7 linked regions of the Homo sapiens genome follow. The protein of the gene in region 5 purifies or fractionates together with the protein of the main gene of each other region. This does not show direct contact. Each region holds a gene or a part of one and is shown on either strand. Other genes may lie near its edges.

Region 1 (4,021 bases), on a different chromosome or scaffold from region 5:
TGGAGGTAACATGATCACACTGCACAGATGCCATGATTATAGACACGAGAAACAAATCAAGAAGATCAACTGGAAACTACTATAAGTAGTAAAAGGATAAAAGAACATGGCTAAGGACAAAATCATTACAGAGCAATCAACAGCTTTCATATCTACAAAGAACAGTGAGAAGATAACATGGAAGAAAATACTTCGTTTCTAGCAGCAACGAAAGATGCAAAATAACGATAAACAAACCTAACAAGAAATATGCAAAATGGATATAAAGAAGACTTGGCATATCATAAAAGTAACATATCAAATAAAGAGGGAAAGTAGACCGGGCAGGGTGGCTCACATCTGTAATCCCAGCACTTTGGGAGGCCGAGGAGGGTGGATCACAAGGTCAGGAGATCGAGACCATCCTGGCTAACACGGTGAAACCCCATCTCTACTAAAAAATACAAAAAATTAGCCGGGTGTGGTGGCAGGTGCCTGTAGTCCCAGCTACTTGGGAGGCTGATGCAGAAGAATGGCATGAACCTGGGAGGCGGAGCTTGCAGTGAGCCAAGATCACGCCACTGCACTCCAGCCTGGGTGACAGAGCAAGACTCCAACTCAAAGAAAAAAAAAAAAAAAAAAGAGGGAAAGTGAAAAAATGGTATTAAAATAAACTACATAATCATCTGGAAAAATGCCAACTAAGTTTGGTCCATGCCTCACACCACATCAGGCCTAATTCCAAACAAATCAAGGACTTAATGGAAAAAAAACAAAGCCCTAAACAAACAAGAATCAGCTATGAGGAAACTTTTGTAACTTGGGAGTGTGGACTTCTAACTATGACACTAAACTGGAAGCTACCAAAGATTGGTCGGCTGGGCCCAGTGGCTCACATCTGTAATCCCAGCACTTTGGGAGGCTGAGGTGGGAGGAACGCTTGAGCCTAGGAGTTTGAGACCAGCCTAGACAACATAGGGAGACCTTGTCTGTACAAAAAATACAAAAATTAGCTAGGCGTGGTAGTCTCAGCTACCAGGGAGGCTTAGGAAGGAGGATCGCATGAGCCTGGGAGGTCAAAGCTGCAGTGAGCCACAATCTCGCCACTACACTCAGGCCCAGGCAACAGAACAAGAACATGTCTCAGAAAATAAATAAATAAAAAATAAAAGATTGACCTTCAAACATTAAAATTTTAACATCTCTGTGTGGCAAAAATCACAATAAGTTAAACAAGAAATGGGGAAAAGAATATTTGCAACTCAGTTCATAAAGGGCTAATTCATGAAGCATATCTATAAAGTAATAAAAAATTAATAATCTAATAAAGATAGAAAAAGGATACAAACAGATAAAGTTCACAGAAAATAAAACAAAACATTCTTTTTTATTTTTCTTTATTTACTTTTTTTGAGACGGAGTTTCACTCTTGTTGCTCAGGCTGGAGTGCAATGGCGCGATCTTGGCTCACCGCAACCTCTGCCTCCTGGGTTCAAGCGATTCTCCTGCCCTAGCCTCCCAAGTAGCTGGGATCAGTATGAACCAGCATGTCTGGCTAATTTTGTATTTTTAGTAGAGACGGGGTTTCTGCATGTTGGTCAGGCTGGTCTGGAACTCCCGATCTCAGGTGATCCGCCCACCCTGGCCTCCCAAAGTGTTGGGATGACAGGCGCAAGCCACCGCACCTGGCCGAAACATTCTTAAATAGATGGCAAGAAGTTCAGCCTCACTCAAAAATAAGAGTAATGAGGCTGGGCGCTGTGGCTCCCACCTATAATCCCAGCACTTTGGAAGGTCGAGGCGGGTGGATCACCTGAGGTCAGGAGTTCGAGACCAGCCTGGCCAACATGGTGAAACCTCATCTTTACTAAAAATACAAAAAATTAGCCAGGCCTGGTGGCAGGTGCCTGTAATCCCAGCTACTTGGGAGGCTGAGGCAGGAGAATTGCTGGAACCTGAGAGGGGGAGTTTGCAGTGAGCCGAGATCGCACCATTGCACTCCAGCCTAGGGGACAAAAGGGAAACTCTGTCTTAAAAAAAAAAAAAAAAAGTATTAAAAATAAACTTGCTCTGAGAATGCAGTTTTCGCCTATATGACTGGCAAAACTCAAAGATGTATGAACTATAGGCAAGGTTGTGGGGAAAGAGACAATTTCTACACTGCTGGGGAAGGTGTAAATTATCACAGCTCTCTAGAGGGCCTGGCAGTACCTATCGAAGTAAGAAACACACACCCTCTTCGACCCAGCAAGTCTACTTCTGCAAGTGTATCCTACAGACACTCACAGGTGTGGAAAGCAATGTGTTGTGCAGTTACACGGTGTCCACAGTTATTTACTGCAGCATCATTGGTAACAGCAAGACTCTAGGCACAAACTAAATGTTCACCCACAGCAGATGAGATGAATGACATATCCCCAAGGTGGAACCCTATATAGGTACAAAAGCTAGTAATGCTCTTCATGTGTTGATACACAATATTCATCAAGATAAATTAAGCCTGAAAAACAAGATTCAGGACAGGGCTCTCCATGCTATATGGAAAGGGGGATGCAACACTCTATGCGTGTTGGCTTGCACCTGCACAAATTATGTCTGGAAGGATACCCAAGAGACTGATGACATCGATGGCCCTTGGAAGGGCAAGTAGGTGACTTAGAGATATAGAGAGGCAGACATTTCACTTTTTACACCTCTAAATTAGGAAGTCAATTTCAGAAACTTCTAATGGTCTGGCGTGGAAAAAGAATCCAGGACCAGAACTCAGGGAAGCAGTCTTCTGCTCCAGGCTCTGTGACTGGCTCCGAGGGGTCCCGGGCTGGCTGACTTGCTCATCCTGCAAACACATGAGCACCCACAACAGACCACATCCTTCGCTAGGTGCCAGGCAGGCTTGGGGTACATGCAGCCCACCCTGGAGGGTGCCTCAGGCAGTGCGGTGAGAGACATGTAGAGGTGGGAACACCTCTGAGAAAATATCAAAGCGTGTGTGAGAGGAACGGGTCAGAAGTCAGAGTGGCTGGAAGAGGTGAAAACACAAGTTGGGTCAGATCACAGAGGGTTTGCAAGCCATGGCAAGGAGCTTTTATTTTCTCCAAAGTGGGATAGGAAACTATTACCGGGCTTTAAGAAAAGAATTTTAGGCCTGGCGTGGTAGCTCATGCCTGTAATCCCAGCACAGTGGTAGGCTGAGGCAGGCGGATCACTTGAGGTCGAGTTCGAGACCGTCCTGACCAACATGGTGAAACCCCGTCTCTACTGAAAATACAAAACTTAGCTGGGCACGGTGGCTCATGCCTTTAATCCCAGCTACTCAGGAGGCTGAGGCAGGGGAATCACTTGAACCCAGGAGACGGAGGTTGCAGTGAGCCAAGATGTCGCCACTGCACTCCAGCCTGGTGACAGAACGAGACTCCATCTCAAAAAGAAAAAAAAGGCTGAGCACAGTGGCTCATGCCTGTAATCCCAGCACTTCCGGAGGCCCAGGCGGGCAGATCACGAGGTCAGGAGATTGAGACCATCCTGGCTAACACAGTGAAACCCCATCTCTACTAAAAAAAAAAAAAAAAAAAAAAAAATTAGCTGGGCGTGGTGGCGGGCGCCTGTAGTCCCAGATACTCAGGAGGCTGAGGCAGGAGAATTGCTTGAACCCAAGAGGCGGAGGTTGCAGTAAGCCGAGATCACGCCACTGCACTCCAGCCTGGCCAACAGTGAGACTCTGTCTCAAAAAAAAAAAAGAAAAAGAAAAAAGAAAAGAAAAGAGCTTTATAATCTAACTTGTGTTTTTAAAAGGTGACGTTACTGTGTAGAAAGTGTATCCGAAAGGAAGCAGATAATATCCCCTGACATTACAAATGCACATATTAGCCAACGGGAAGTAGAAGCCGGTGAGACAGCGTGGCTGAGACCCAGACAGCAGCATGTGGATGGAGATGGAGAGTCTGTAGATGGATTCAGGATATCTTCTGAAGGTGGAGAAGACGTTAGCTGGTGATGGCATGAATGTAGGAGGTTCTCAGCTTGCACAGCTGGGTGAAATGGA
Region 2 (3,847 bases), on a different chromosome or scaffold from region 5:
AATACTAGTGTAACAGCTACAACTTATCTAGTTTTAATCAACTCCAGGGAACATTACACTTTATTTAACCCCTAATTATCTGATAACCCAAGTTCTGTCAGAAACACTGCTGAGGCATCCAGGAAGATGAGCCTGTGAAATTTGAGAATCCTTCATGTCTCTGGAATGAGTCCCTAGATTCTAGCCCTGCAGCTAGCTGACACTCTAAAAAATTATGAGTGCCTTCCTTTAGCTCCCCATAGAAATGTCTTTGTATAACCATGGCATGATATTATTCTCTTGACTTTTGTTGAGGATTGATAGAAATAAAAATGAGCCAGAAATGTTTCTTCAGCTTTTGTAAAGTGCTGTTAAAAGCATTATGTCATATCTAGTACTTCTTATCTAAGTATTTTAAAATTTAGTGTTAGGAAAATTTTTTTCACATAGGATACATGTTAATATTAGGTAGTACATCTAAAGAATTCATTTGCTTCCCTTTTGCCTTGGTTGCTGGGAAACTCAGAGCCAAACTCGGTGCTTAGATTAATTACTTTCAGCCTAGGTTTTTCTGTATATCACCCTTTCGGTAGGGCTTGAAGTAACCCTTCAGTTTGCTCATATTTTGTTGTGAGTTTTATAGATAGTTTACATGCAACGAAATGCATATATCTTAAGTGTTCAACTCAGTGAGTTTTGACACTTTTCTTTGTCCATGTTAACAATCATCAAAACATTTTCATTGCCCCAGAAAATACCATTGTGCTCCTTTCCGGCAAATATTCCTTCCCTCTGCTAAAACTACTTTTTCATTTCTATGACCATAGTTCAGTTTTTGGCTATTCTTGAACTTTATTTGAATGGAATCGTACATATATAATCTTTTTGTTTGGCTTTTAAAACTCAGTATAACGTTTTGACATTTGTCCATGTTGTTGCATGACTCAGCAGTTCTTTCTTTTCAGTTGCTGTGTAGTAGTCCATTTCTTTTGGTTTTGTGTGTGTGTGTGTGCTTTTTAAATTTATTTTTTATTTTTTTTTTTTTGAGACAGAGTCTGGCTCTGTCAACTCAGGCTGGAGTGCAGTGGCATCATCTCGGCTCACTGCAATTTCTGTCTCCCAGGCTCAAGCCATCCTCTAACCTCAGCCTCCCGAGTAGCTAAGACTCTACAGGCGTATGCCACCATACCTAGTTTGTTTTTGTTATTTTTTTTAGTACAGATGGGGTTTTGCCATGTTGTCCAGGCTGGTCTCGAACTCCTGGGCTCAAAGCAATCCACCCTCCTCGGCCTCCCAAAGTGCTAGGATTACAAGTGTGAGGCACTGTGCCCTGCCAGTATTCCATTTTTTGTGTATACCACAATTTATCATTTTTTTCTGTGTAGGTATTTTCATTGTTTCCAAGTTGGGAAGTATGAATAAAGTTGCTATGAACATGCATGTACAAGTCTTTGTAGATAGCTCATGTTTTAAAAAGTGTTTGTTTAATGATTTCATTGCAAAATCATCTTTATTGTAAACATATCTTTTTGAGGGTAGATTGGTAAAATATACATAATAAATACATGACAATGCAGGAGTCCAAGTATTATTAGGTTTACAGTCATAACAAACACCAAGAACCATTTATAAATTTCAGTTTCTCATTGTTTTAGAATGGAAGGTCTAACCAAATATGTAATGTATCCCTTCAAGTAAACTAGTATAACTTGGGTACCTTCTCATATAAATTCCCCTTAAGGCATACGTTGCTGTCTTTTCCAAATTCCCATTTTGCTTGTCCAATAGGCATTATCAGATACAACATGTTCAAAGGCAAACTTGATTTTCCTCCCATGGTTTCCTCATCTCAGCTCCTTTTTTTTTCCAGTTGCACAGGCTAAAAATAGGAAGTCATTCTAGATTCCTCTCTTTTTCATAAACCTCACATCAAATCCATCAGCCAATCTGGTGTGCTCTACCTTCAAGATACGGATTATCCAGAATTCAGCCGCTTCTCACTGTCTCTACTGCTAACATAGTAGTCAAAGCTGCTATCATCTCTTGCTTGGATTGGTGCAATGGCCTCACAACTGATCTTCCTGCTTCCATACTTGACCCCTAGAGCCTCTTCTAAACAGAGTAGCTAGAGCGATCTTTTCTAAATCTAAGCCACATCATGTCACTCCCCTGCTCAAATCCCAACATTTTATTCAGAATAAAAGTCGAACAATGCCCTACCTGTAGGTAATCTAGGCCTCCAAAGCTCTTCTTACATCACCTCCTGTAACTCTCCCCCTTTCTCACTCCTCTACAGCCACACAGCTGCCTCACTTTCCTTTGAACGTACCAAGGGCAATCCTGCTTCAGAGCCTTTGCACTTGCTGTTTCTGGGCCAGGAATTCCACACCCTCCTTCCCTCACATGTATCCCAAGGCTCACTGCCTTCCTTCAGTTAAGTCTGCTGGAATGTCACTTCATTAGGTATTGCCTGATCACCTTTTCTAAAGTGAGTCTCACCTCCACCCTCAATGCTGGCAATGTCTGTCTGTAGTGTATTCTTAACAATACAGATTAGCACAATGCAGGCCAGACCATGAAGACTGTTTCAAGTTCGAGGATGGGCAAAAATAATGACTAGGACTTGGCTCAAGATTCCTCAAACAGCCAATAAACAATGCAAAGAATAAATGAGAGAGTAATTGGAGACAAGCTTTCCCTTGGCTTCCCTTCTTTTCTCACAGAGGCTTTTCCAGAAGGTGGTCATTTCCATAGCCCATGTGGAATGAGATGTCCACTAGGGCAGAGAAGCACAGAACCGTGGGCACTGCTTCCCTTCCTTTAACCCTATCATATTGCTGCCCAGTGAGCAATATGGTCATTGGTCAAGAAGGCTTATGCCCAGGTATCCCTGTGGCTATGAGCATTGCTCCTTATCTATGCCTCTGCTCTTAGACTTTTCCATTCTGCCCTCTTAGGGGCCTTCCTGGCCATGACCACACTACCTTATTTTTCTCTATAGTACTTATCACCATCTGACATGTATTTATGTTTGTATTTGTTTATTGTCTGTCTCTACAAATAAAATGTAAATTCCCTAAAAACAGAGACTTTATTATTTTTGTTCATGTTACATCCTCAGCACCTAGTAAAGCACCTGGCACGTATTAGGAACTCACTAAATATTTACTGAATGAACTTTGTTCAATAAATTTAACATGGTTCTATGTAGCCTCCTTTTTAAAAATTGGCTCTGTTATATAGACTTCAGGGGCAACTGATAACAAACAAAACCAAACTTGGCTTTTTTCCCTTTTTTTTTTCTTTAATTGTAGTTTCAGAATTTCATCTGGGAGTGGGAATGGCCACAGGAATGCAAGTTCTGTACACCTCAGATTTGGTGCTAGTGATGTTGCCATGTTAAGAAAGTGAGCTGGGCCTTGTGCCTTCAGTAGACAGAATCAAAATCTATTACTTTATTTTAATACCCGAAGTTCAAATTACCTCTTAGGTAGGGATCCCTTAAATGTGATAGTGCTGAATCACAATGGAGGAAAAAAATGGCAAAGAGTATATTGAAATTCAGACTGATTCACAGGTAAAAGGCCTCTTGGAGACAACACTCTGAGAAAGGGACTGCTTTTTTAAAAAATCTGCATGTTTTGGGGTCGAATGGGTTTGGATAGTAGAGACACAAAATGGAAATGGTAGCTGCTTCTCATTGATTCATTTTAATGTAATTTTTAAATTTTAATTTTTTTTTTTTTTTGAGACGGAGTCTCTCTGTCGCCCAGGCTGGAGTGCACTGGCGTGATCTTGGCTCACTGCAACCTCTGCCTCCCAGGTTCAAGCAATTCTCCTGCCTCAGCCTCCCAAGTAGCTGGGACTA
Region 3 (4,021 bases), about 100 Mb from region 5:
CTGCAATCCCAGCTCCTGTGGGGACTGAGGTGGGAGGTTCGCTTGAGCCCAAAAGGTCGAGGCTACAGTAAGCCATGATTGGGCCACTTTGCTCCAGCCTGGGCGACAGAGCAAGACTGTCTCAAAGATGAAGCTGCAGGTCTCTGCTCACTATGGGTGATTCCAGGCCACACTTTTTTTTTTCCCTCATGCAGAATTTTCATAGAGAAACACTGTTCTCTTTCTGCTAGTCTTCCATTTGTTACCACTGTAAAATAGAAAACAGAAAATAAAATCAAAAGCTTTTGGACTTGGGAGCTTAAGGACAGATGTGTACACATTTTGGTGAAATTTGTATATAAGCACATCTTGGTTTTATTTGTTGTATATAGCACCTACCACAGGGATAGCATTTAGTAGCTCAAGGTTCATACAGCATATGATGCTGTATTCTACTGTACAACCCTTTGGCCCAGTGTTTGACCAGTCCTTATTGATAGACCAAAATCTTATGTCTTGCAGATGCTGTTGATGGAGTAATGAATGGTGAATACTACCAGGTACAGAGTACTCTGATTCTGTTCATTGATAGTGATTGAGAATCTTCCTTTCCTGTGATTTTAATTGACTGACCTAGAAAGAAACCCCAGTCCTTTGACTTTCCTGAATGTATTACTGGCTGGTGTGTTATCTACCAAAGTGGAAAGATTTAAAGAGAGGTAGCATTGATAAAAAGAGAACTGTTTAAAAATGTTATTTACCTGCCCCTAGTGTTATCACCTTTATTCTAAAGAAATCACCATTCAAATGATACTGTGTTGAGTGCAGTAAGTTAATACTAATACTTTAAATAATTCTCCTTCCATCTTTGTTTATAGTCTGATTAGGTTAACCTGGTAATATTAATATTCCTTAGTTCAGTGAGTGGCATATGGAATAATTTTGTAAAGATTAACATTTATTTGAGTCTTTTTTTTTTTTTTTTTTTTTGAGACAGTCTCACTGTCGCCCAGGCTAGAGTGCAGTGGCACGATCTTGTCTCATTGCAACCTCCACCTTCTGGGTTCAAGCGATTCATCCACTTCAGCCTCCTGAGTAGCTGGAATTACAGGCGCATGCCACCACGCCCGGCTAATTTTTTGTATTTTTAGTAGAGATGGGGTTTCGCCATGTTGGCCAGGCAGGTCTTGAACTCCTGGGCTCAAGTGACCATCCCGCCTTGGCCTCCCAAAGTGCTGGGATTACAGGCGTGAGCCACCGCACCCCGCCAGAGCCACCGCAACCTTGGCTCACTGCAGAACCCGTTTCTAACAACAATGGCGGCTTTTGTAAAATGTTAAAGGATTACCTTAAAAGCAACAACACAGGCCGGGCACGGTGGCTCACGCCTGTAATTCCAGCACTTTGGGAGGCTGGGGTGGGTGGATCATTTGAGGTCAAGAGTTCGAGACCAGCCTGGCCAACACAGTGAAACCCGTCTCTGCTAAAAATACAAAAATTAACCAGGCGGTAGTGGCATGTGCCTGTAATCCCAGCTACTGGGGAGGCTGAGGCAAGAGGAGAATTTGCTTGAACCCGGGGAGTAGAGGTTGCAGTTGGCCAAGATTGCGCCACTGCACTCCAGTCTGGGTGACAGAGTAAGACCCTGTCCCGTCCCCCCTTCCCCCACCCCAGAAAAAAAAAAAAAAAAAAGCAACCACATAGGCCAGGCGCAGGCACCTGTAATCTCAGCTACTCGGGAGGCTGAGGCAGGAGAATTGCTTGAACCCGGGAGGTGGAGGTTGCAGTGAGCCGAGATCGTGCCACTGCACTCCAGCCTTGGCGACAAGAGTGAAAACTCTGTCTCAAAAAAAAAAAAAAAAAACAGAACCAGGGGTTCTAACTCAGGTGAAGTGCATTTTAGGAAGGAATTTTTGGTATTAATATAGCACAATTGTGTTTTGTGTTAAGGAAAGTAATGGTCCAACAGACAGTTATGCAGCTATTTCACAAGTGGATCGATTGCAGTCAGAGCCTGAAAGTATCCGTAAATGGAGAGAAGAACAAATGGAACGCTTGGAAGCCCTTGGTAAGGAATCCCTTCTGTGTTTTGGTGTCTGTTTTCAGTGGAGTAGTTGAGCTGGACTCTACTTTTATTCCTTTTTAGCTCACATTAACCAGTGTCATTGTCTGGTCTTTGGGAAGATATCTTCTCAGCCTGAAGGTTACAAGGCTACCTGCACAGAGATGCCTAATCACAGGCCATTGTGTGAGGAGTAGGGTAGCCGGAGATCCCCAAGATCCTCTCACAGGAAGAGCATAGTGATGCTGCTCCTGACCTCAAGAGTAGCCTCAGGTGGTGTTTATAGAGTGCTTTATAAACTTGAAGGATTCAAGTTTCCTATGTCCGTGGACTTTAACAGTCCATTTTTCTTTTTTCTTTTTTCTTTTTTTTTTTTTGAGATGAAGTCTCACTCTGTTACCCAGGGTGGAGTGCAGTGGTGCGATCTCGGCTCATTGCAAGCTCTGCCTCCCGGGTTCACACCATTCTCCTGCCCTCAGCCTCCTGAGTAGCTGGGTCTACAGGCGCCCGCCACTACGTCCCGCTCATTTTTTTTTTGTATTTTTAGTAGAGACAGGGTTTCACCGTGTTAGCCAGGTTGGTCTCGATCTCCTGACCTTGTGATCCACACACCTTGGCCTCCTAAAATGCTGGGATTACAGGCGTGAGCCACCGCGCCCGGCCTCCATTTTTTATTTGAAGGCTAAATGAATTTAAAGTAACACGAGGAAAATGAGGTATGTTAGGAAAAAATGTACAATTTGTTTTTCCTACCTTAATATCTCTGTAAGGTAAGTTTTACAATTTTACAGGTAAGAAAAGTGGAGGAGAGGTAGAATAAGTATTTGGAATACTCAGCTAAGGAATGGTAAGAGTCACAATTTCAGCTGAAGTCTGCCTTGCTTCAAAGTCACTACCCATCCCCATCAGCCACATTGCTTTCTAAACATTTAATGTGCGTGGCCATCTAGCCACACAGCCTGGCCTTTGATAAAGAGATGTGTACGTGGAGTGTCACCTGTTGGTTCATGATCAGGGGAGACTTGTGTCTGTACATGGTGGATTGGAGAAGTATGCAGAGTGTGAGGATATAATCCACATTGTGGCCTTTTCTTTGTTTTTTCTTTTTCTTTTTTTAATCAGCTGACTTTAAGATTCATCTTTTCTCAACTTTACAGAACAATTGAAAGGAGGAAAATAAACATGTGCACCCCCAGATTCAGTAATTAATGGATTATCTTTATATAAATGATATGTTTTAGACATACACACACACAAATTGTTTTGGCTGACCTACTTTAAGATAAAGACATCATATACTTTGTGTCTAAATATTTCAATGTACACCTCCTAGAAATAATGACATTCTCCTATGTAACCACAACGTCAGCAGTATTATTCCCTCTTGGGAACTGTTGAACTAGTGAAAACATGAGTCCTTATTTTTCAGATGGGATAACTGACACCCAGAAATAGGAAGGGACATGACCCAGATGACACAGCCAATTAGTGCCAAATCATTTATCTCTCTAGTCCAATTTAGGTGGCTTTCAGAACAAAGAATGCACTTAGTATTTGAACCTTTATAGCACCATTCATTAGTGATTTCTTTGGTGGAAATATTCTGTATCTGTGCTGTCTCGTATGGTAGCCACTAACCACATGTAACTGTTAAGTACTTGAAGTGTGGCTTCACAATTCAAGTGTGACTGAGAAACTGAATTTTAAATTTTCTTTAATTTTAATAAATTTACATTGAAGTAGCCACATGTAGCTAGTAGCTACCATATTGGACAGTGGAGCTGTAGGAAGATGAAAATAGGTCCTAACAGCTTTGGTCCTTGCTTGTTCTTTGTGTCTCTTGAGTATGCTTAGAGGCAAGATTTAGCTGGTCTTAGTACTGCTGTAGTATTTTTCATGTTACAGAACCCAAATTTATCTTTTCTGTTTTACCAAGCTCTAGCAGTTTTTCTTCTCCATGGAGAGAGTCTACTTTGGTGT
Region 4 (4,021 bases), on a different chromosome or scaffold from region 5:
GTACTACTCCAATAGAGACTTCAGAGACCTCACCAAATACTATATGAACCCAGATTGGATTTTGGTTTAAAAAAAGGTATAACAGAAATTCTTGGGACAACTGAAGAAATCTGAATATGGACCGAATGTTAAATGATACTATGGATTACTGTTAGTTTTCTTATACATAATAATGGTATTGTGCTTAAGTGTGCCCTTTTTGTTAAGAGATGCAGGCTGAAGTGTTCAGTGGTGAAGTGACATATTACCACTAAATTTTACATGACACAGCAAAAAACATCTGTGTGTATATATGTACAGAAGGCATGTGGGGGTGTGTTGTACTGTTCTTTCCATTTTTCTGCACATTTGACATTTTTCATAATAAAAAGCTGAAACAAAGAAAGCTGGGAAATAATGTCTGAGATGAAGGAAAGGGGGTAGGAGAAATAAGAAAAACAACTTCATCATCCAAAATGTATTCTAAAAGGTGAAATACTAAAATCTAAAAGACAGAAATATAATGTTAGGAGAAAAACAATTATCATGAAAAACAGCAGAACGGTAGGATATGAATTTCTGAAGAAAATGGTTCTCTCTCAAACAGAGGTAATATACTCAGTCATGAGGGCTCTGGGGAAATAAGTATAATTCCAAGAAAGAATGCCGGGGCTGGACTCAGTGTTTTAATCTGCTATCTGAGTCACAGCTAAAACAATTCCATGGCAACAGAACAGATCGGACTCAGACAAGCCAGCAGCCTGCCTGCTGGTCTAGACCTCCCTGCTAGATACAATCACTCGCTCTGGCTAGGCCTAAAGGATCCATGTGAATACTAATGGTAAGGATAACGTATGCTGTCACCTCACCTAATTTTCTTTGGTAAAAAAACCAAGAATATACTTTTGTAGCCCAAAGAGATTCTGCATACAATCCAACAATATTTTCATTTAGAAGGAAATTTCTTAATACAATGAACTTTATTACTAAATCAACTTATGTTACTGAAGATAGTAAGTACTTCCTTCATAAAAACATTAATATTATAGCTTGGCTTGAGGGAGAGGTGGGAAAATCAACCTCCTTTTCTTTCTTAAGCACATCACATTAAGTAAGTATCAAATTTCAATGTACATTATAAGCATCTGGAATGCGGATAAAATGCAGATCTGTAGGCTCCATATCCTGAGATTCTGATTCCATTGCCAGAAGTGAGGGTACCTGTAATAAGCACCCCCAGGGATTCTGATTCAGGTACTCCAGGGTTCCAGGATAGTTCTATGCTTCCATAAATAGCAAAGTTTTACTCTGATTAGATATAATGTGGTATTAGTGAGGAATACTAAACTGGGAGCCAGGAAATCTGGGTGCTAGATTTGTTACTAACTGATGGTATTTGACTCTGGGCACGTCAATGTCTCTGTGCCTCAGTTTTCTCATATGCTCAAATGAGGATAATTCTGCCTGCCCCACTTAGCATACCTCACGTACATGCTAATTTATACAAAAGTGACTTGAGAGTATGAAGAGCTTAACAAACAAGCATTATATCTTTGAGAGGGGAGTCTTTAATCTTATTTGGTGAGCTTAGTATTATGTATTGTACTCACAACAAGAGCCAACTGCAGATTAGTCCCCCCTCTTTCCCCTTAGGCTTAATCTAATCAAAACAGTGCTAAAGTAACATTCTTCTTTATCATTTGACATCCCCCGTGGCCAAAAGAAGACAGAAAGCACAAAGATAATGAGGACGTCACTTAAGTATTGTGAAAATTAAATGTAAAAGAGGTTTATGTCTTGGGACAGTTCTTACCAAGTCTATGAGTTTGGTAACAGGAACTTCTCGGATTGGTCTTTTCATACGGCACAGAGCCTCTAAGGATGTGCCAAAACAACTTGGGAGGTAATTTCCACTGATAGTCAAGAAGTAATCTTTGCCTCGATCCAGGTGAAGGACGAGAATATCTTCAATCTTATCTTCTCCCGAGTTCAGGATGGTTACAGAGTCTTTGCTGACATACACATCAAGAGAAATGTCCACTGTCTCATCTGAAATGTAAGAGATGATACATGGTAATAGGAAAACCTCCAGTGGGAAAGCAAAAAAGAGTATAAGAACCAACAGAAAAGTGTCCTCTAAAAAAATCATTAAGCAATGAGGGGGAAGAGACAGGACACACACCAGAGGTATCACCAATATGACAGTAAAGGTAAGAGACATGTGGTTAGAAAACAGAAAGTTAAACCAAGGGGATGGGAGTCATGACATCACCAGCAGAGACAATGGTAAAGGGAAAACTCACTTGGCTCCAAGTAGCCCTCAAAAGGTTCAGCCCGAAGCCATGGCTTGCAGTACTGGCTGTCATTAAGTTTAGGGATGAAAGAAAAATGGCAGGGAACCTGTCCATTGTTGCTGATCTGGAACTTCTCCTTTTGTAGTTGCCGAAACTTCACATTTTCAAACACAAACTGGGGAATAACAGACAGACACAAACATGCATCACTAGTAGGGGAAGTAAGTCAGTTGGATTATTCCATAGAGGATATGAGGAGTAAGGTAATTGTTAAGCAGGTGTGCAAATGCCATAGACATTCACCAACTGAACCAACTTCACAACATCCACTTGCATGTATTATTATACTCACACCAGCAGAGAAGGAGTTAGGTGGCTCTTGCTACTTCTCCAGGCTACTCTGATCATTCCTAGGATCCTAAGAGGGTAACCCAACCTTGGTTCAGAGTATTCATCCTGTGACCAAGTCCTGGTTTCTGAGATATAAATTAACTAGCAACTCTGAAATATTAAATAAGAGCATCTAACAGCGGAGGGCTTACTATGTGCCGGGTGCTGTTCTGAGAGCTTTGCATGTATTAACTCATGTAATCCTTACAACTACCCCTTAATCCAGGAAAGGAAACTGCGGCTCTGAGCGGGTAAGATACTTGCCTGAGGTCATACATCTACTAAACAGCCGTGCTACAACTGGAATGGAGGCAGTCTGACTCCAGCGACATGGGCTTAACCACGTTGCTATGTAGCCTTTTCTAAGTAGCAGTTTCTTCTGTGCTAACCACAGTGAGCAGTAGACAGGGAGATCATGTATTTTTGCTCACCTCCCTCCTGCTGAGTTCTAAGGAAGGAAGGAAGTCATTTTCCATTCTGTCCATGATGCGTACACTATCTTCAAAGACTTTCCGGTACCTTCGTTCATCCACAACCTTCACCTGAAAGAAAATGTATCCTCTTTTCAGTCTTATATCCTTCTAGCTCATCTCCCTTGGAGATTATCTAACAATTTAAAACTGGTCATTACAGTAACTATTTAAAATAAACTGTGGTGCAAACAACATCCTCAAACACTCTCTATATCTTGCTTCATCCACAGCTTGCACCTGAAAGAAAACAGATCCTTGCTTTAGTTTTATGTGTTCTCAACTTTTATACCTCCAAGAGTCTCTAACAATTTTTAAGGTCACTAAAGCAAACATAAATTGAACAAAGCATTATAGAAGCACACGCTTTAAGGTAAAGGTAAGATTAATTGGCTAACGTCCTGTAAAAGTTAAACCCCTACGTTAAGAAGCTTGGTAATAATAAATATTTGGGAAGAATATTTTCTTGCTTCATTGTTAAGTTATTTGGTAGTGGAAAAAATGTGATAATTGTGGTAAAAATGATTGCTTGCACTGTACAAAATGACAGTGTCAAAACACAGCAATTACTGTTTCTAACAATCATAACTTGGTGAGGTGGCAGCAAATATTATTAAAAAGCTTTTAACTCTATTAGATTCTATGTACAATACCAAGAAGTATAATATCACTGCTCAGATTACATAATAGCAGAGATATATTAATAAATGGAACCTACAGCCATTTTAGAAAATGGCTGAAACAAAATGTCCTAGACTAGAGTAAAACCATGACAACGTATAAACACATCTCCACTGATAAAAAAATTTTCCACCTGACACAGCACTTTCAGCTTCCTGATATAGCTGTGTTTTTTTAAATATTAAAACTTCATACAAACCAATGCCA
Region 5 (4,021 bases):
CCCAGCCAGGAGCAGCCTCTAAAAGCGGACCGTGCTTTATTCTCGGGAGGCTTCAGCCCCATCACCAACCAATTCGTGGCCACAGAATTGTTCCCAACGGGGCCCATGTGGACACATGAGGATCTGAAGACATGCAGTGCCCCGGACACACGCCAGAATTCACGCTTAAGCGCCTCAAAGCCTCAAGGCCTCGACGCTGCCGCTGCCTGGCAGGAAATGTGAAATCACAGCAAAACAGACTCATCCTTGGCCACCCGGACACCACAGCAAGAGGCACGGCGGGAGGAGTGCACTCCTGCGGAGGGAGGTGGCTCGCAGCAGGAGGACCGGACAAAGGACCCGAAGTGAGGCCACGGCTTCCCGTCGCTCTGCACCAGCCCCACCCCAGGGCTCCCAGCAGAGCTGAATGTCCTTGTATGGAAATAAAAAGTGCCTGGGCTCCTTCTGGAACCTACACAGGTCTGAGGGGTCAGGTGTGCACCTGGTCACACGCACACAAACCATGATGCTCGAGGCCCATGGGGGAGGCCCAGCCCCATTCCCCGGGGCAGTACCCAGCAAGCCACGGCAGCCTTGCTCCTCGGGGCGGGCCCCCTTCTGACTGCAAGGCCTTCCTGTGTGGCCCCAAGTCTGGTTCCAACTGGCCTTACATACCGCAAGACCATGGTTTTCCAATTCCCTATCACACAATCCTTCTACCTGGGGTGACACTGAATCGGTGAACCCAATCGGTGTATGTTGAACTGGGTTAGAGGGTAGGAAAAGCAGATAATGATCAAATGTGTACACAGACACTTTTCGAACGACTGCAGGATTATGCGGAACCTAACTCAAATGTCACTCATGAGCTGGTGTCCCTGTGAAAAAGAGGCACAGAAGAATCTTCTGCACGAGCACAGCCGGTCCCCGAGCCGCTGCCCGCACCACCACGTGCTGACAGCAGCTTGCGGGACTCCGCCTCGCTTAGCTGATGCGTGTGGCTCATGCTCCAAAACTATTTTCTCTCCATGTTTTTATTCTCCAGGGGCATTTAAAGGACTATGGTTATACCCAATGCTTCTGACGTAAGCTTCCAGAGGCTAGCCCAGCTTCCCAAGGCATGCAAGACAGAACTTTTCTGCAGACAGCCAGCAGGAGCAGGGGTGACAGCAAATGGAGGGCTCTTTTTGTCACATAAGCTGGGGAGGCTGGTTCAAATCCTAAGCAAGTATTATAAGCAATTCAAGATGCTAACGCGTGGTGTGAACTAAGGGTGGCCTGTGCTTGGGAGAGTAGGTTCTGGAGCCGGGAGCCCTGTCCTCAGGAAGCGTTACTGGAATACTGTTCTCACGCCTGCGGGACTGTGGGTGACCCCGGAACCAAGCGAACAAACACTACTAAGGAATACACTGTGAGTGAGACTCAACTGGTCAAAGCACAGACAGAAAAGTGGGTTACACATACGACTCGACTCTTACCTGGTAATAGAGGGAGGCTGCGCCAGGCTCCGGTGGGTACGGCAAAGAGTACTGAGGCTGGTAGGCATCGTACAAAGGCCGGTAGTAGTAGTAGGCGGCCAGGTCCTGAGGCGGTGGGCCGGGGGCAAGTGCAGGCACTGGCTGTGGCCACGGCTGCTCTGACGGCACAGCTGCCTGGCCGGAGCCACTGGACACCAGAGACACGCTAGAGGACTGAGGAGGCCGAGGGGGCAGCTGCTGACCCGCGTCGACCAGAACCAGACTTGCTGGTGACTGTGCTGAGTTCTGGGCCTGTCCCTGTGCGGGCAGACTTTCTGGATTTGACAGCTCCGAAAACATGGCTTTGGGTAGTTGTGGGGGAGAAGCCTGTTGCTGGGGTGGCACCAGCTCCTGCTGGGCTCTTTCGAGGCCAGGCTGGCCCTGGGCATCTTTCGTGACCTGCTGATAAAAACGGTCAAGGTTAGGCGCCCCAGGCCCAGATTGTCTGGGATGACTGGCAACACTTTGCTGAGAAGCGAGGCTGTCAGAATGGGACGGGTTGTACACGTTTACAGGATTTTCCAAAGTCCTGCTTAAGGTAAAGTCTAGGGCTCCGTAAGTGTCTTCCTGATGACTGGAATGGTTTGCCTTATTACCATCAGGCACCAGGGTGCCGTGTGCAGGTGGAACTAACACCACACTTGTGCTTCCAGCAGGGCTATTAGCAAATCCGGGAAGAGCACTTCCTGCCTTACGATCCTTTTGACTTTCTGGAACCAAGTTCTCTGGAACTGGCTGGGATGGTGGTTGAACCAGCAAATTAGCAGGCTGATTAGAAACCATTTCGGAAGCACCAGAACCTTGTGGAAAATTACTTTGGGCAACACTGCTAGGCAGAGACAAGCTAAGGACAGAGCTGGTTGGAATCCCAGACAAAGAAGTGTTCTCCCCAGAATCACCACCGAGAGCCCAACTGCTGACTGCAGGTCTATCCCCCACCAAAGCCTCTCTCCAGGACTGATTCTTCTCATGAGAGTTCGATAAGGACACAGAAAAGTTAATGGGCTGAGCCAGATTATAGCTGTGATCAGGCTGAGCAATCAAGACTGGAGGATTCTGCAGAGACTCAGTGGGCGGTGAGGATAATAAACTTGCATAACCAGAACTCGCCTGGGACTGAAGGGCCTCCTCCTCTCCCATTTTGGGAGGATTCTCAAGGTTCTCAGAAGCACCAATGCCACCTCGGCTCTGCACCGGGGCCGCCGAGCTTGGGTTCCGTGACTGCTGCCCGGACATCGCCTCTTCTGGAGGCTGAACAACAGGTGGCTGAGGTTTTGCACACACATAAAGCGCCGGGGCTGCAGGGGCCAGAAGGACGTTGCCTCCAAAATCTGGCAGCTCACTTTGCGCCCACAGAGTCGTTGCTGGGCTCTCACACTTCACGGGCCCCTGGGTCCTGGCTGAAGGCCTCTTCTCGGGTGCTGGATACACAGTATCCAAGGGCGGTGCCCCTGCGTGCGGAAGCATGTGCACAGCTTCCGTGGTGGAGTTAAGAGGCAGGGGACAGACCTGGGGTGCACAGAGGGTCTCCATGTTGTCTGGTGGCTGCTCCAGGTTGCCAGGGGAAGCATCGGGCAGGGCGGCAGCTGGTCTGCACTGCTTCTGGCGGACACAGGTCTCCCTTACTTCACCAACCACGTTGGCGCGATCTGCCTCAAATGGTTTTACCCCAACTAAGTGAGATTTTACCGGTTCGAAAGAACTATTTGCACTTGTCTGAAATATTCCTGTAGGTTTCGGGGGGCTCGGGGTTGAGGGCTGGGACACGCTGCCACGGTAATTCTGGCTCACAGTGGTCTCGTCTGTTTCACCTCCTACGGGAGAAGAATCGATTTGCTTAAAAAAACTACCTGAAGCTTCATCCTCGGGTTTTCCAACTTCTTGCTGAATGAATGTGCCAACCAGCTCCTGGGGCCTGGCTGAGCCTGAGAGCCTTCCGTGGCTTCTGCTGCTATAGCTGGATGACACGCTGTCAGGGTGCACTGTATGCAGTGTGGCATCAGGGGCTCCGGTGTGGCACACAGCACCATGCCTGGGCACAGCTGGCCCAGGAAGGGGCCCATATCTGAACTGGTCACTCGGGGAGGAAGGGTCCAAATTGAGGGGCTCACTTGGCAGAACTTCTTGATTCTGAACAAATTCTAAGTTCTCAACATTCTCATACTGCGAGCCGCTGGCATCCGGCACCCCTGTGCTCGCTGTGTCACCCCACACATCACCAGCAGCCTCATTGCTGGGGCCTGGGAGAAGGGCCTGGCAGAGGCTGCCTGCCCCCACGTGTGTAGGTGCGGGCGGACGGCCTAGCCCAGGGCTGGAGCAGAAATCGTCAAAGTCCGCTTGACCAGATAAGCCTGCTTTTTCAGATGAGAGATTCTCCTCATTTTCTGTCTCTCCCCCTTGGAAAAACATCGCCAGAGCTCCTGAAGCTCCTGAGTCTGCTTCTAGCGGGGCACAGCCAGACCCGGCCCCAGCCCCCAGTGGGTGGTGCGTACGGTTTTCTGGGCTATCTCCCCGGGCGAGGGGGT
Region 6 (4,021 bases), on a different chromosome or scaffold from region 5:
CCAATACCTACCAATTCTTTATCAGTCATTTCCCTTAGGATTCACTTGTAATCAAGCCTGCCTAGACAGCTGTATCACAACTGAAAAAAGTGCTTTTCTCTTTATGTTACCCCAGAAACTGCCAACAAATCTGATCAGAAAACTAGCCCACTCTAGTTCGACTTTTTGTTCTTTTCAAAATAACCTTTTTTGTTGGCTTCTTTACTTGTTTATAGAGCACTTGCACACAGGGAAGTTAATAAATAAGAGATAAATAAAGAAATATATATTTTAAATGTGTAAAATGCTGCTGGATTTATATAGACAGATTTCTAGGACTTGTGGGTTACATATGAACAGTCACTTGGTTTCTCAGCTTTCTCTCTCTACAATTGTGCTCAATTCTTCTGACAGCAGGGCTAACTTGCAAGACTGCAATTCTGAGACAAAGCTGATGTTTATAGAACTCTGCTAGTCACAGTTGCTTAAACCACACCTGAACCAGAAAATGCACCTGGCAGCTTATTTCACTTTCATTTGTCCTTAAGGCCTATGTCAGCATAACAGTGGGGGAGAGGGAGACGACTTGGCCACATGGTATTGCAGCTATCACTGGTTGACTTATCGCTCTGCACAATTTACATATGGGTGTGTATATGTGAGTCCATGAGTAAATCTTGCTTTTTCCACTCCTTCGCAGCTCAAAGTTCTAACTGATTTCAAAGACAGGGCTCCTCACTTAGTCTCTCAATTAAGCTTTCCCCAAAGAGTTGTGGCCATTATTTAGCAATTGCTACAACACTACATATCTTAAGTGAAAAGACCTTGGCACCCTTTCCATGGAATCATCATTGATTATGTTATCTATACCTTTCTTCTCTTTCAGTTTTAACCATCCTCTGTACAAATCAAAAATATTTATCATATGTATACAAAATAAACTGAATTATTTGGGAGACAATGGAATTTCTACATTGTTACATTAAAATCAAAGATGATTCATTTCTTTAACTCAAGTAATTAATGGTTTTATCAAATTATTTACTCTGTGTGTGATACATCCACACACATACTTAGGATTTCAAGGGCTCCTGCCCCCACTTTTTGGTGAATCGTATTTTGGATCCACCCCAAATTTCTGTGGAATCACATTTTGGATCTAATGACCTTGGAGAGATTTAACACTCTTCTTTTCCTGTAAATGTCTTATTCTAATTCTTCCACATACAAGATTTAACATGCTAAATGGGAGTAAAGCCACTCCATAAACAAAATATAGAATTTCAAATAGTTTGAAGACCTTATGTTAATAACAGAGCTATGAGTATGGCTTTGAGTATGAACCAAAGGTGACAGATTTCTCAGATAATATATTGAGATATCAACGGACATGAATTGGCCTAGTATCACACAAATAAGTGCTTCTGCAATAAACCACTTTCTATATTTTTTTCAACGTATATGGACTGATGTTTTTGTCTGACATTAACAGACATAGAAATTGTAGCCATATGCTGTAATTTTCAATTATATGTATAAGTGATCTCCTACTTAGCTCTTTTGACATTTGAAAATCCTGAACTTTTCTGCATGAGAGATTGACACTCAAAACAACTTTAATAATTCTAGTCTTTAATCCATCAATTACTAAGTATTTCATTTTACTGTACATGGGGCTGCCAGCATGTCAATATGCAGTTTCAATAATATCACTGTATTTCTTTTTACTGCGTATTTGCACACTTATTTGAATATTTTATTGCAATTTGAACTTATAATCAATTTTGAAAACTGGAAAAATGAAAATTCTGAAGTTAGTGACAGGATGTTTATAATTTGGATACAATTAAAGCAAAGATGAACTTCACTGTACATGCCAAGAGAAGCGGCCCTTTGGTCTTGATCAGATGACCATTGCACACGTGTTCCATTGTGAAGAAAAGGAACAATTTTTTAAAAGTATAAAATACTAGAAACATATTGTTGAATATTGTGTTTACAATGTTTACAGAGTAATCAATCGTCAATTGTATTTATATTTTAGCTACTAGAAAATAAAATTTGACTTGTATTAGAATATAAAATTTGACTTTCACACCTAGGCATACGCTGAAGATAATACAGGTTGGGTTCCAGACACCACAATAAAGTGAGTATTGCAATAAAATGAGTTACACAAATTTTTTTTGGTTTCCCAGTGCATATATAAGTTATGTTTACATTATACTGTGGCTTATTAAGTGTGCAATAGCATTATGTCTGAAACATCAATGAACAACCTTAGTCAAAAGATAAGTTATCCCTAAAGAAATGCTAACTATCATCTGAGCCTTCAGCAAGTTGTAATCTTTTTGCCATTGGAGGGGCTTGTCTTGATGTTGATGGCTGCTGACTGATCAGGGTGGTGGTTGCTGAAGGGTGGGGTGGCTATAGCAATTTCTTAAAATAAGACAATAACGAATTTTGCCAGAAAGATTGACTCTTCCTTTCACAAACGATTTCTCTGTAGCATGCAATGTTGTTTAACAGCAGTTTACATATGGTAAAACTTCTTTCAAAATTAGAGTCAATCTTCTTAAATCCTGCTGCTGTTTTACCAACTAAGTTTTTATAATATTCTAAATTCTTTGTTGTCACTTTAACAATGTTCATAGCACCTTCACCAAGAGAGTAGATTTCATCTCAAGAATCCACTTTCTTTGTTCATCTATGAGAAACAACACCACATCCATTAAAGTGTTATCATGACACTGAAAAAACTAAGCCACATCTTCAGGCTCCTCTTCTAATTCTATTAATAGGTCCCTTGCTATTTCCACCATATCTGCAATTACATCCTCCACAAAAGTCTTGAACCTTTCTAAGACATCTACAAGAGTTAGAATCAACTTCTTTCAAACTGCTGTTAATGTTGATATTTTGACCGCCTCCCATGGATCACAAATGTTCTTAATGGCATGTAGAATGGTGATTTCTTTCCAGATTTTCTATTTATTTTGCTCAGATTCATTAGAGGAATCACTTACCTGTGGCAGCTATAGCTTTATGAAATGCCTTTTTAAATAATAAAACTTAAAAGTCAAAGTCACTTCTTGATCCATGTGCTATGGAACAAATGTTGTGTCAGAAGGCATGAAAACAACATTAATCTCCATCAGATCTCTTAGGTGACCAGGTGCACAGTCTATAAGCAATAACATTTTGAAAGGAATCTTTTTTTTCTGAGAAGTAGGTCTCAACAGTAGGCTTAAAAAGTCAGTAGACCTTGCTGTAAACAGATGTGCTCTCATCTGAGCTTTGTTGTTCCATTTACAGAGCACAGGCAGACTAGATTTAGAATAATTTTTGAAGACCTTAGGCATTCTGGGATGGTAAATGAGCAGTGGCTTCAACTTAAAAGTCACCAGCTGTATTAACCCCTAAAAAGTCAGTCAGCCTATCCTTTGAAGCTTTGAAACCAGGCATTGACTTCCCCTCTCTAGCTCTGAAATACTAGATGGCATCTTCTTCCACTAGAAGGCTGTGTCACCTACATTAAAAATGTGTTGTTTAGTGTCACTTTGTTCATCAATTATCTTAGCTAGATTTTCTGGATAACTTGCTTCAGCTTCTTCATGAGCACTTGCTGCTTCACTTTGCACATTTACATTTTGGAGACAGCTTCTTTTCTTAAACCTCAGGAACCAACCTCTGCTAGTTTCATACCTTTCTCCTCCAGCTTTCTCATCTCTCTCAGCCTTCACAGAATTGAAGAGAGTTAAGGTCTTGCTCTGGATTAGGCTTTGGCAGAGAATGTTGTGGCTGGCTTGATCTATCCAGGGGTGTCTAATCTTTTGGCTTCCCTGGGCCAAAAAGGATTGTCTTGGGCTACGCATAAAATACACTAACAACAATAGCCAATGAGCTTAAAAAAAGAAAAAAAAATTGCAACAAAAATCGAATAATCTTTTAGGAAAGTTCACAAATTTGTATTGGGCAGCATTCAAAACTGTCCTGGGCTATATATGGCCTGCAGGCCACAGATTGAACAGCCTTGAATTCT
Region 7 (4,021 bases), on a different chromosome or scaffold from region 5:
GACCAAGTAGAGGGCAAGGTTTTGCTGACTGATTTCTGGACCATATCTGTATTCTGATTATAGAGAGGATTAGGCTTCTGCAGCACTGTGCTAACATTTTGCAAAGGCTGGAAAATAGAAAAATGCTCTAAAAATTAAGCATCTGTTCTATAAAAATTATCAGATGGCAATTTAATCACAACAATGAACTTCTGAAACAAAAAGAACCACTAATGTTCTATGCTAATGTCTTCAATACCCTGAATCATTAGCTTCCCAAAGAGGTTCCTCTGAAGTCCCAATCAGGTTTGAGGTGGATAAAACCAACAACTTACCTACACTAACAATTATTCTCCCATCACTCAAAGTCTAGAAGCCACCATCCCTGGCAAATGCCCAGGGGAACTACCGATTTTAGGTTAGTACAGCTTTAAGGAGATACACAAGTGGACATTTATTCTTTCAAAACAGAATTCAGAGGCCAGGCGCAGTGACTTATGCCTGTAATCCCAGCACTTTGGGAGGCTGAGGTGGGCAGATCACCTGAGGTCAGAAGTTCAAGACCAGACTGGCCAACAGGATGAAACCCCATCTCTACTAAAAATACAAAATCAGCCAGGCATGGTGGCACATGCCTGTAGTCCCAGCTACTTGGGAGGCTAAGGCAGGAGAATCACTTTGAACCAAGGAGGTGGAGGCTGCAGTGAGCAGAGATCGTGCCACTGCACTCCAGCCTGGGCGACAGAGCGAGACTCTGTTTCAAAACAACAAAACAAAACAGAGAATTCAGGATATGATGTCTCACATTATACAAGGATATAAGGCAAAACTGTCAAAAAGCAATTTATATTTCACATATCCTGACATTTTGCTGTTCTGTGTATACTTTTACTATCTAAAGTGAGCAACACTAACTGAACTGATTAATATATGGAACAATGTAGGAGAAAGAAGAAATTCAGGAGAAAGAAGCAGAGGTTCCTAGTGGTTATTGAGGATAACTGAAAAGGACAGAAAAAAGGAACAGGAAGAGGAAGAATAATTAAAAATGTACCAATGCAAAGAATTATGACAGTTACAATTAAGACTGCAAATAAAGTAGACTGACTTTATGCTTAACTCATACATTAGGTCTTATTTCTGTTACATAGAGCAGTCACCTTTCTGCTTCTTTCTTCTTTTCCTTCATCCTAATACCCCAAAGACGAGAATCTACACATTAAAATGAGTAATTAGCATCATAAACACATATTCTCAATAGTTTGAGTCAAAAATAGCAAGTTCCTGGTACCATTCAGACACATATTTTCCAAGCCTGCACTTGTCTGAATTCTAAGCTAGTACTAGGTAATTCGGATTTAACTATAAAATAGTGAATTAAGAAGCTCCCATTTTGGTTGTTTTTCTTTATGAAAATGAAAGTTGAAAGATGAGCCTATAAAACATTTATATAATGTAGAGCAGGTCCAGAATTGGGAAGAACATTCACCATTCGAGAGAATGATTTTCCATATTAGCAATAATTATTTACAACCAATGAGTGATATTTCTTTAGGGACATGACCAGAAATTTTACTAAGTGGATACTTGCCGTAAGTGAAACAATATCTCTATTTCTTTTTCTTTTCCTTTTTTTTGAGACGGAGTATCACTCTGTCGCCCAGGCTGGAGTGCAGTGGCGCGATCTCAGCTCACTGCAAGCTCCACCTCCTGGGTTCACGCCATTCTCCTGACTCAGCCTCCCAAGTAGCAGGGACTACAGGTGCCTGCCACCATGCCTGGCTAATTTTTTGTATTTTTAGTAGAGACTGGGTTTCACCGTGTTAGCCAGGATGGTCTTGATCTCCTGACCAAGTGATCCACCCACCTCAGCCTCCGAAAGTGCTGGGATTACAGGGGTGAGCCACTGCGCCTGGCCTATTTCTTTTTCTTAAAGACAATTTAAAAAAACTATCAAGTACCAATTTGTTGTAACAATAAATTTTTGCCATGTTCCTCCTCTGTGCAAAGGCACCATGCTTGGCTTTACAGTGACTACAAGATGGGGGAGAAGGTCTTGCCTTCCAGAATGCAAATGACTATGCTAGGGGAGAGTATGAGGTAAATGAAATGTGCAAATGCGTATATATACACACACAGACACATATTCATACACATAAAAAGGACTTGCTTATTTTTCTGTTTTATACTAATCTATCATTCAATGAGTTAGAGCATCTCAAAGATTATAAATAACAAATTCCAAGGGAACCAGACAACTTACCTGTGATCTTGACATAGGCAAACCAAGTCCCACAGTGTTAGTGCTCATCATAGAGAAATTCATACTCTGGGAAGATGTCATGGTTGCCTGGGACGAGCCCATAAGATCAAACAGGTCTGAAGAATTTGAGGCAGCAGGAGGTGGGCCTAGAGCTGATTGTGAGCCACTAACAAGTTCTACCGCTGGCTGTGAGGCACTGCCAAAGAACTCGCCACTGGAAGCAACAGGGCCTGATGGGGCTTGGTTGAAGGCACTCCAGTCACCAAAGTCTCCATTCCCACTTGTTGCTGTTACTAAGACAGAAATAACTCTAAGGGTAAGAAACTTCATGGAATGCACAGAACAAATGTAACAATCTATGAACTGAAACAAATTAGAGCTGATCTGAGTCCCCCAGATTAACATCTGCAGGTACCATCTCCATCTGGACAGTATTCTTTCTCATAAATATTACACGAGAGTTAACAAGGTGGCAAAGAAAAAACAAACCTCCCAAATATAACGTAAAATCCATCTCTTGGCAGCTCTGTAGGTGACACATTGAATTTACCATAAAAAAAAATGGCCAGGCATGGTGGCTCACGCCTGTAATCCCAGGACTTTGGGAGGCCGAGACAGGTGGATCACAAGGTCAGGAGATTGAGACCATCCTGTCTAGCACGGTGAAACCTCATCTCTACTAAAAATACAAAAAAATTAGCTGGGTGTTGTGACACACACCTGTAGTCCCAGCTACTTGGGAGGCTCAGGCACAAGAATCGCTTGAACCCGGGAGGCGGAGGTTGCAGTGAGCTGAGATTGTGCCACTGCACTCCAGCCTGGGTGACAGAGCGAGACTCCGTCTAAAAAAAAATGAAGAATTTCTCACTTATTTGGCCATACTTCCACTGACAATACAAGGGCTATAACCTTAGCACATTGCCTGCTTCAACTGGGACCATTTATTTACAATCAAAGAGAGGAGGAAAACTCATGTAATATTAAAAAACACAACCAAGCCAGAAACAAGCAAAACCCTATCATACTTTGCAAGTTTAAGGTTGAATGCATAAAATCCATACTCTTAATCACTACAGTCTTATCAATTAACCTCTGATCAATTTTTATATTGAAAGGAACAGATAAATACGCATAAATGGAAGTTGAAAAAGCAAAATGTGAAGAAAGAGCTACATAAAAACCGTCATCTGAAAGCAAATAGTAAGTATGTACCTTCCAAGTTAATTAACACCATCCCTTTGCATTCCATGTTCATTTACAACTTGGAAATACATTTTGTCTAGCCTAAAAAGTGACCAACCACTACAATACCATGTCTCATTATGCTAAATATCAAAAGAGAATAATAAGGTGAAGTCTTTAAAATTACATTCTTCTATTACCATATTAAAATGTAAGCACCCTTGAAAGAGAAAATAATTCACTTAGAAACTCCAAGTTCTACTAACAATTTAATATAAAAATTGGGCTAATTTCTTTACCTCAGGGTTTTACTAATACACGTCTTTGATCTTTTTTTTTTTTTTAAGTGACTGCATTAAGAGTTTTACAGTTAGTTCTAGATATTAAACAATTTAAACTAAGGCTGCTGGATCAATGTAAACTTTTATGCTGATTTTCTATTTGCTTGATCTATAATGCAGAATATGAATGGAAACTGGGGCAAAATGTGTTGCCCCACCTGAAAACTTCATATCTGAAATGATTAATCGTGGGAGGAAACGATTTCTAGTGGGGCATATATTATTCAGAAATGATTAATCATTGTTGCAATGGTTT

What was found.
Region 1: the proteins of SEC16A (region 5) and GTSE1 purify together in Homo sapiens (affinity purification with mass spectrometry; one large-scale study listed by BioGRID and IntAct). This does not show direct contact.
Region 2: the proteins of SEC16A (region 5) and ITM2B purify together in Homo sapiens (co-immunoprecipitation; one large-scale study listed by IntAct). This does not show direct contact.
Region 3: the proteins of SEC16A (region 5) and CLTA purify together in Homo sapiens (affinity purification with mass spectrometry; 2 studies listed by BioGRID and IntAct, with this or other methods). This does not show direct contact.
Region 4: the proteins of SEC16A (region 5) and OCRL purify together in Homo sapiens (co-immunoprecipitation; one large-scale study listed by IntAct). This does not show direct contact.
Region 6: the proteins of SEC16A (region 5) and FAM83B purify together in Homo sapiens (affinity purification with mass spectrometry; one large-scale study listed by BioGRID and IntAct). This does not show direct contact.
Region 7: the proteins of SEC16A (region 5) and CLINT1 purify together in Homo sapiens (affinity purification with mass spectrometry; 2 studies listed by BioGRID and IntAct, with this or other methods). This does not show direct contact.

Annotation. Positions count from the first base shown.
Region 1 is NC_000022.11:46,299,496-46,303,516, reverse strand, and holds part of GTSE1 (G2 and S phase-expressed protein 1), read right to left. Parts: intron 1-4,021. UniProt on the Homo sapiens protein: May be involved in p53-induced cell cycle arrest in G2/M phase by interfering with microtubule rearrangements that are required to enter mitosis. Overexpression delays G2/M phase progression.
Region 2 is NC_000013.11:48,267,296-48,271,142, forward strand, and holds the end of ITM2B (integral membrane protein 2B), read left to right. Parts: 3' UTR 1-3,062; downstream 3,063-3,847. UniProt on the Homo sapiens protein: Plays a regulatory role in the processing of the amyloid-beta A4 precursor protein (APP) and acts as an inhibitor of the amyloid-beta peptide aggregation and fibrils deposition. Plays a role in the induction of neurite outgrowth.
Region 3 is NC_000009.12:36,197,050-36,201,070, forward strand, and holds part of CLTA (clathrin light chain A), read left to right. Parts: intron 1-501; coding exon 502-539; intron 540-1,929; coding exon 1,930-2,047; intron 2,048-4,021. UniProt on the Homo sapiens protein: Clathrin is the major protein of the polyhedral coat of coated pits and vesicles.
Region 4 is NC_000023.11:129,574,324-129,578,344, reverse strand, and holds part of OCRL (inositol polyphosphate 5-phosphatase OCRL), read right to left. Parts: intron 3,206-4,021; coding exon 3,095-3,205; intron 2,449-3,094; coding exon 2,283-2,448; intron 2,029-2,282; coding exon 1,793-2,028; intron 1-1,792. UniProt on the Homo sapiens protein: Catalyzes the hydrolysis of the 5-position phosphate of phosphatidylinositol 4,5-bisphosphate (PtdIns(4,5)P2) and phosphatidylinositol-3,4,5-bisphosphate (PtdIns(3,4,5)P3), with the greatest catalytic activity towards PtdIns(4,5)P2.
Region 5 is NC_000009.12:136,472,592-136,476,612, forward strand, and holds part of SEC16A (protein transport protein Sec16A), read right to left. Parts: coding exon 1,458-4,021; intron 1-1,457. UniProt on the Homo sapiens protein: Acts as a molecular scaffold that plays a key role in the organization of the endoplasmic reticulum exit sites (ERES), also known as transitional endoplasmic reticulum (tER).
Region 6 is NC_000006.12:54,852,821-54,856,841, reverse strand, and holds part of FAM83B (protein FAM83B), read right to left. Parts: intron 1-4,021. UniProt on the Homo sapiens protein: Probable proto-oncogene that functions in the epidermal growth factor receptor/EGFR signaling pathway. Activates both the EGFR itself and downstream RAS/MAPK and PI3K/AKT/TOR signaling cascades.
Region 7 is NC_000005.10:157,789,461-157,793,481, forward strand, and holds part of CLINT1 (clathrin interactor 1), read right to left. Parts: intron 2,536-4,021; coding exon 2,243-2,535; intron 1,192-2,242; coding exon of another isoform or gene 1,165-1,191; exon of another isoform or gene 1,140-1,164; intron 981-1,139; exon of another isoform or gene 108-980; coding exon of another isoform or gene 54-107; coding exon 1-53. UniProt on the Homo sapiens protein: Binds to membranes enriched in phosphatidylinositol 4,5-bisphosphate (PtdIns(4,5)P2). May have a role in transport via clathrin-coated vesicles from the trans-Golgi network to endosomes. Stimulates clathrin assembly.